Linked DNA regions of Homo sapiens. The protein of the gene in region 1 interacts with the protein of each later gene in a pairwise test. Each region holds a gene or a part of one and is shown in the gene's direction. Other genes may lie near its edges. The genes, in order: METTL21A and ZRANB1.

The links.
Region 2: the proteins of METTL21A (region 1) and ZRANB1 interact in binary tests that used the Homo sapiens proteins (3 or more experiments, as listed by UniProt).

The regions. Positions count from the first base shown.
Region 1 is NC_000002.12:207,618,601-207,622,423, reverse strand, and holds part of METTL21A (protein N-lysine methyltransferase METTL21A), read left to right. Parts: intron 1-506; coding exon 507-618; intron 619-1,633; coding exon of another isoform or gene 1,634-1,683; exon of another isoform or gene 1,684-1,729; coding exon of another isoform or gene 1,730-1,783; intron 1,784-3,823. UniProt on the Homo sapiens protein: Protein-lysine methyltransferase that selectively trimethylates residues in heat shock protein 70 (HSP70) family members. Contributes to the in vivo trimethylation of Lys residues in HSPA1 and HSPA8.
Region 2 is NC_000010.11:124,979,974-124,983,796, forward strand, and holds part of ZRANB1 (ubiquitin thioesterase ZRANB1), read left to right. Parts: intron 1-1,251; exon of another isoform or gene 1,252-1,355; intron 1,356-1,735; coding exon 1,736-1,856; intron 1,857-3,201; coding exon 3,202-3,331; intron 3,332-3,485; coding exon 3,486-3,715; intron 3,716-3,823. UniProt on the Homo sapiens protein: Ubiquitin thioesterase, which specifically hydrolyzes 'Lys-29'-linked and 'Lys-33'-linked diubiquitin. Also cleaves 'Lys-63'-linked chains, but with 40-fold less efficiency compared to 'Lys-29'-linked ones.

The DNA.
Region 1 (3,823 bases):
CTTTGGGAAGCTGACGCAGGAGCTCAGGAGTTCAAGACCAGCTTGGCCAACATGGCAAAACCCCATCTCTACCAAAAAAACTACAAAAATTAGCTGGGTGTGGTGGTGCACGCCTGTGTCCCAGTTACTGGGGGTGCTGAGGTGGGAGAATCGCTTGAGCTTGGGAGGTGGAGGTTGCAGTGAGCTGAGATTGTGCCACTGCACTCCAGCCTGGGTGACAGATGGACTGAGACTCCATCTCAAAAAAAAAAAAAAAAAAAAATTAAGCTTTCCAGATCCAGCAGGACCCCATTTAGTGTGGGCATCATCTCTGGGCACTGCTGTGGGACCCTGTGCTTGCTCTAAGGGGGAGGTTACCTTGCTGCACCAGCTAAGTTCCTGTGTGTGTTGTTAAGCTGGGAATTGAACCTCGAAGTGGGAGAGGGGTGGGTGTAGCTGACCTGAAACCCTGCAGCTACTCAAGCACATGTTGACCTTAATCGTCATCACACTGTGTTTTCATTCAGGCCATCGTTCTTTCCACATACCTGGAGATGGGAGCTGTGGAGCTCAGGGGCCGCTCTGCCGTGGAGCTGGGTGCTGGCACGGGGCTGGTGGGCATAGTGGCTGCCCTGCTGGGTGAGTGTCATGCATTGACTCCTTAGTGAGCAGAACTCATTGAGAGGTGCATTTGCTGTTTTCTTAGCGCAAAACCCTTCGTGGGTTTTCCCCTTACTGGGTTATTATCTTTTGCTTATACTTATGAGTTGTGGGCCAACTGCTGGGGTTCTTAACTCCAGTGAGGCTAACGGGCTAATTTCTCTCTCTCTAATTTCTGTCTCTCTCTCTCACACACACACACACTCTGTTATTTATACTTCCCATGGGAGATTGCTCTGCCCCCTTCAATTCTGTGATGCCAATAATACGATCTTAAAGTGAGTTGATTCAAGGAGAATAATCTTACCCATGTATAGAGTTTTTTTCACATTCAGGGGCTTTCTTTCCCATACACTATCTGATTTAACCCTGTGAGGGAGATAGAGCAGATAGTCTTTTCTTCATTGCTGAGGAAACTTTGCTGGTTTTTCTCTTGTAGGGAGGGCTAGCCCCCACTATAGTTTGTACTGACTTCTTATTTTTAAAATTGTATGAACAGTATACAGTTCTGACTTGATATCAAAGTTTGTCATTTTAAAATTTGGTATACACACATTAATTGAGGCTTGGAGCTAGAGCATTTTTAGGCTTCATTGTTATTTTTATTATTGACTATTGACTCATTTCTATAACTTCTGACATATATAGTTCAAGCTATCTAATCATAAGGGTAGACCAGCTTTCAAGATACAATGTATAATGTTTATCACTTCCATATTGTCACCTGGTGCTCTTGTTAAAATGCAGATTCTGATTTGGCAGGGCTGGACCAGGGCCTGGGAACCTGCATTTCTAACAAGCAGTAGAAATGTCAGTAGTGATGCCGACACTGCTGGTTCTCAGACTACACTTGGGTAGGAAGGATCCAGGATTCCAGAGTATTCTAAACCCATCGCATTGTCTACAGATATTTGAGGACCAGCTAAAGCCCCTCTTTTGTCCTGCCTGTTTTCCAGAAACCCAATACTTTTTCACTATTTCTTTTTCTGCTTAGCTGCTGCTTTCCAAAATTCGACAGGGAGCATGGGCAGGGGTGGTGGTTGAAAGTCTGTGTAAATTGACAGAGGTTTCCGTCCGTCTTCAACCACAGCACTTAAGTCATCGATGAAGCCCTTGCTGGTACACTGCCTTTTATTCTTTTCAGGTGAGCCTTAGAACATTCCCGTGTATGTTAGGTATTATTTTTAATTTTCATTTTTCAAACAAAGCTGGGATTCTGGGAGATGAAGCTACTTTCTGAAGTCCTGATCACTGGAGATCTGGGACTCAAAACCAGGCTTGTTAGACACAGTTAGTTGTTTTATTTTATTTTATTTTATTTTATTTTATTTATTTATTTTTTGAGATGGAGTCTCACTCTGTTGCCCAGGCTGGAGTGCAGTGGCATGATCTCGGCTCACTGCAACCTCCGCCTCCCGGGTTCAAGCAATTCTCCTGCCTTAGTTTCCCTAGTAGCTGGGACTACAGGCATGTGCCACCACGCCCAGCTAATTTTTTATTTTTGGTAGAGATGGGGTTTTACCATGTTGGCCAGGCTGGTCTCGAACTCCTGACCTCAGGTGATCTGCCCACCTTGGCCTCCCAAAGTGCTGGGATTACAGGAGTGAGCCACCGTGCCTGGCCTGTTTTATTTTTTTCTGTAACACCAACTTCTCTCTCTGCTGATATAAGAGTTACTATAAGGGGAAATGAGGTTTCTTCTGTTTCCTCCTGAGAACCAGGGCTTCATGCAAAACTTTCTTGGCTGGTGTATAGACATGTTAGTGTAGCAAAGTGCATAGGCTTAGTTATACTTGGTTTTGACATTTCTTTTCATTCTTACTAGTCGTGTGACCTTGGGCAAGTTGCTTAACCTTTAAACATTGATTACCCCATCTGTACATTGTGCATAATAGTAATATTTACTCCACAGTGAGGAACCAATGAGATTGCGTGTATAACATCTGCTGGCTCACTGAGTGACACAAAGGAAGTGCTCCACGAGTGTTGATTACTCTCTGAGTAACTGCTTTTTCTGATCTAGCAATCTGGTTCTCTGGGGTTGGGAAAGTCAGAATAAGATATTTCAGATACCACCAGAGTTACCATTAGCATTTTGGTATGTTTTGTTTCTCTCCATCTGTATTTTTAATCATAGTTGTAATTATGATTATATATATGTAAATATATATGTCTGCGTATGTGTGTTTTGTGTATCCGTATACACACACCTATACAAATGATGTTTTCACATTATGTCATAAGCATTTCTCTGCTACTGTATGATTTTCATACTCACTATTTGTAGTCACTACAAAGTGTTAGGTTGGAGAAGTTTTGCTGTTGGAGCCTGAGGGTAAGAAAATGTTAGTCTCTTCAAAATAGAATCAGTGAGTACTAGAATAGGTAGTGATTTTGAAATGTCAGGAAGAGATTAATTATTATTCTTTTTAAAGTATATTCTCTTTTTGTAACCTTAGTCATTTATTCCTGAATTTGGGGAGAACCCACCAGAAGCCTGGCGGTCCACTGTGGATGGGGCAATAAACAGGCTGGCAGGTGTCTCCGGAAGCTTACGTTCTGAGTTTAGTGGGTAGAGGTAAAGAAAGAAGATTAAAAAAAAAAAAAAAAAGCGGTGCTATGTAGATATTAATATAGGGTGATGAGACTTTCCTGTTAAAAACCAGCTGCTAATTCCTGAGTAGTTCCTGTGTTCTGAGGACTGTGCATTACACCCTTTCATTCTCACAGTCACCCTGCATGGTAAGTAGGCCTTACCTACTTATAGCGCCCTTCCAGTGGTGAAAGGGAGGCTTCTTGGAGGGTAAGTAACTTGCCTGAGGTCACAAAGCTAATGGATTGTGCTTAGAATTTGAATCCAATCTGACTCTCAAATCCTCGTTCTTAGTTTGAAAATCTCCCTGGTCTTATGGTACTTGGAACTGTAGCAGTCCCCCCTCACCTGTGATCACTTTCCCTGGCTTCAGTTACCCACTGTCAGCCTTGGTCTGAAAACAGGTGACTAGAGTATGATAAGATATTTTTTAGAGAGAGAGAGAGACCACATTCACATACCTTTTGTTGTTGTTGTTGTTTTTGAGATGGAGTCTCACTCTGTCACCCAGGCTGGAGTGCAGTGGTGCGATCTCGGCTCACTTCAATCTCTGCCCCCGCCTCCGGGTTCTAGCGATTCTCCTGCCTCAGC
Region 2 (3,823 bases), on another chromosome or scaffold:
GTATTTCTTTTTCAACATTGTTTTGACTATTTTGAGTCCTTTGGATTTCCATATACATTTTAGGATACAGCTTTATCGATTTTTGTAAAAAAGACAGCTGGGATTATGATTGGGATTGCATTGAATCTGTAGATTTAATTGGGGTGATGGTGGTATTGCCAGCTTGACAATATTGAGCCTTCCAATCCATGAACATGGAATTGAGTTTTGAATGTTAAACCAAACTGGTATTCCTGTACCATTTGGTCATATATTGCTGGATTTGGTTTGCTTGTCTGTTCTTATGGAGACTCTGGTAGTATCAGAGTTTAGGTCTTGGGGTGGTGAGGATGAACATTTTAACATGTTTAGTTTTAAAGTATATTTCATTGAACCTCCCTTCTTCAGTGGTCTTTGAAGAGTTTTGAGTGCAATCACCATTGAATTTCTGGCTGGCTTAGCTGTCTTATTTATAAAGTTATTTTAGGCACCAAGAAATTTCTAACTGCATATAACTTTCAGTATTGACAATTTCTCTGATATTTCTCCTTGAACTTTTCAAAACAATGTATTTCATCACTGTTGCCAAAATTTTCAAGACACATTTATCTTAGCGATTATAAAAGAATATACATATTTTAATTTTAAAACATTTGGAATTATGATTAAACATCCTCAGTTACGTGGAGTATGAAAAATGTTTTAAACTGAGTTAAACCTCTGGAACATTATATTTTAATTTCTTTAGGAAATATATTTACTCTCTAAGGAGCCCTTCATTAAATTACTGTAAAGTTACTTGTGACACCACCCATTTAACTTTTTTTTTCCCCCCGCAATATAGCCGGGGTCTCACTATGTTGGCCAGGTTGTTTTGAATTCTGGACCTCAGGCAATCCTCCTCCTTCAGCTTCCCAAAGTGCTAGAATTACAGGTGTGAGTTACCACACGTGTTCACGTTTAACTTTAATATGCTGAAACTTTTTAACAACAGGAACAGATTGGTCTTTTGTTTCTTTTACCTAGAATTCAGATGTATAGAAGATAAATGTGATGTTATAAACAGATTAAATGTCTGTCTGCATTTTAGAGGTCTTAGTTGGCTTGTTTTTATAAGACAGTGAACCATAATTTTGAGCATAATTATTTCTGAATTTTTATATTTGATAGACAAAGAATCGATGTGTTTTCAGTAATTCAGTGTTAAGCATAAAGAAGGAATGTTTTCTGTCATTGCAGTGGGTTTCTTTTTGGTTGCTTTTGAATTATTAGGTGATCATCAGAGAAATTATTTATGGAAAGAAATCTCAGGGAGATGATCTTGATACTATGAACACACGGAATATTTCCCACCTGTTGTTTATACAAGTGATCAAGTAGGTGGTGTACTATACATTGATAGAGAAATGTAGTGTCTTTGTATACAACATTTCAGATGACTTTTTTTTTTTTTTTTTGTAAACTAATTGTGGACAGTGGAAAATAACCAGTCTCATCATTAGCGTTTGAAGTTTGAAAATTTGGTTGTCGGTAAATCAAATTCTGACTAAAGATGTTAAAGGATGTTACAAGGTATCTGCTAGTGGAAGAGGGAGGCATTTTTCATTAGAAAAATACATTACCAACCAGACAAAATAAAATTATTAATTGTTTCACAGACTGCTTAAAGACTGCATTAAATAAAAATGATCAGAACTTTAAATGTTTTATTTATAGAAGACTATTTATTTATTTTTTTACTATCCTGCTTTTTTAGGTTTTACACACGCTGGAAAGATTGGGAATCATGGTATTCTCAGAGCTTTGGTTTACATTTTTCCTTGAGAGAAGAACAGTGGCAAGAAGACTGGGCATTTATACTCTCTCTTGCTAGTCAGGTGAGGATGCTTCAAGTCTTGTTGCTTCTATGAGAAAAGTAAGCATGTAGTCTAAACTGGTTTATTTGAGCAAACCATGTTGGGGGCAATGTGGTCAAAGAAAAGAATGCTTGACGTGGTATCATCAGTCAACTTGGGTTCTAGTGATGACTGCTGTGTATCAAATAAATAGCATCGCAAGTATAGATGAGCATCGCAAGTATAGATTAGCATCGCAAGTCCTCACTGCAGAGCAGGAAGAGTAACGTGTTTTTATATCGAATGATTAAAAACATCAAAAAGTGAAAGCTGTGCTATGACGGTTACATACAGTAGATAGTCTTGGGATTGCTCTCCGTTCCTGCAGCATAGGCTTGATGCCTATGGTACCTATCCAGGTGAGCTCTGTTCTGTCTCTGGGGACACTTAAGATTACTGGTGTAGGTACTTGCATTGCTGTTGCTGATCTGTCAGGCCCTGAGGAACCAGTTGTCAATCTTCATAATGCTCCCTGTGGTGAGGCAATACCTGTGTCATGTAGGCAAAGGAAAAGGGTAGTTTAGCTTACTCTGAACTAATTACCATCAATAGGAATGATTTCTGATTAATGTGGGAATGAAGTTTTGCAAGTTTGCTAACGTCTTTTTATTAATGAAGGCTGCTTGTGACACAGAACTGTGTAGGGTTGTCCCTTAGACTCTTGGTTTCATGCTTTATTTTGTGAAGCACTTCAGTATACCAAACTGTAAAGTACAAATATATATACAACTACTCCTTTTTTTTTGCAGAAAGCACCATGGTTCATTTGAACTTAGAGAAGGAGGTACCCGATCTTTGGGCAATTTGGGCAGGATTCATAGTGGTTGATTTACATGAGACATGTATCTCACACCATGCATTGTAGCTCGATGATGGACCCATTTAATATTAGTATTCACGAGTTAGTTGATACTGCCATTTACATTTGCATGAAACAGGCTCACTTATTTATTTCAGGAGGACTTTGTTGTAGGTAGTGCTTTCACAGTAACTTAACGAGAATGTGATAATAAAGCATCCTTAGTTATCTGAATCTCTGGTTCCTGAGGTTGGAGAGTTAGTAGTGAGGGATATTTCAAAGTATGTATGCACATCTGTATAATTTGTGAGTTTGGATGGTAAATGATATTTGCATGTAGCCTTTATAGATTTCTTTTACAGTTTTACTGGATTTATTATTTGAGGAATCAAATGCTGCTTTGACAATCTTTTCTTTCTTAAAAACCAACTGCGATAGTATACTGAAGGGGAGGTAGTATTGTTTTTTACACATCAGTTTTCCAGGAGTGGTAATAAATGTTTTAAGTTTTTGTTTTGTTTCGTACAGCCTGGAGCAAGCTTGGAGCAGACGCACATTTTTGTACTGGCACATATTCTTAGACGACCAATTATAGTTTATGGAGTAAAATATTACAAGAGTTTCCGGGGAGAAACTTTAGGATATACTCGGTTTCAAGGTAAGCCATTATTCAGGAACGTTTTACAAGTTTCTTTGAACGGAATGGCTCAGATGTCAGGAAGGAGCAGTGGACAGGGGAATGTGAACAAGGGCAGTGAGGGAGTGGCTCTTTCTTCCTGTGACTGTTGGGATTTTCTTCCCTCTCTTTCCAGGTGTTTATCTGCCTTTGTTGTGGGAACAGAGTTTTTGTTGGAAAAGTCCGATTGCTCTGGGTTATACGAGGGGCCACTTCTCTGCTTTGGTTGCCATGGAAAATGATGGCTATGGCAACCGAGGTGCTGGTGCTAATCTCAATACCGATGATGATGTCACCATCACATTTTTGCCTCTGGTTGACAGTGAAAGGAAGCTACTCCATGTGCACTTCCTTTCTGCTCAGGAGGTAAGCAGTTTCTCCTATGAACTATTTCTAGTAGTGACCTTGTACCAGAAACAGCCTGAAGTGCCTTTCAGGTGTGGTTTTATCTGCACTATCACTTAATTTCTGAAT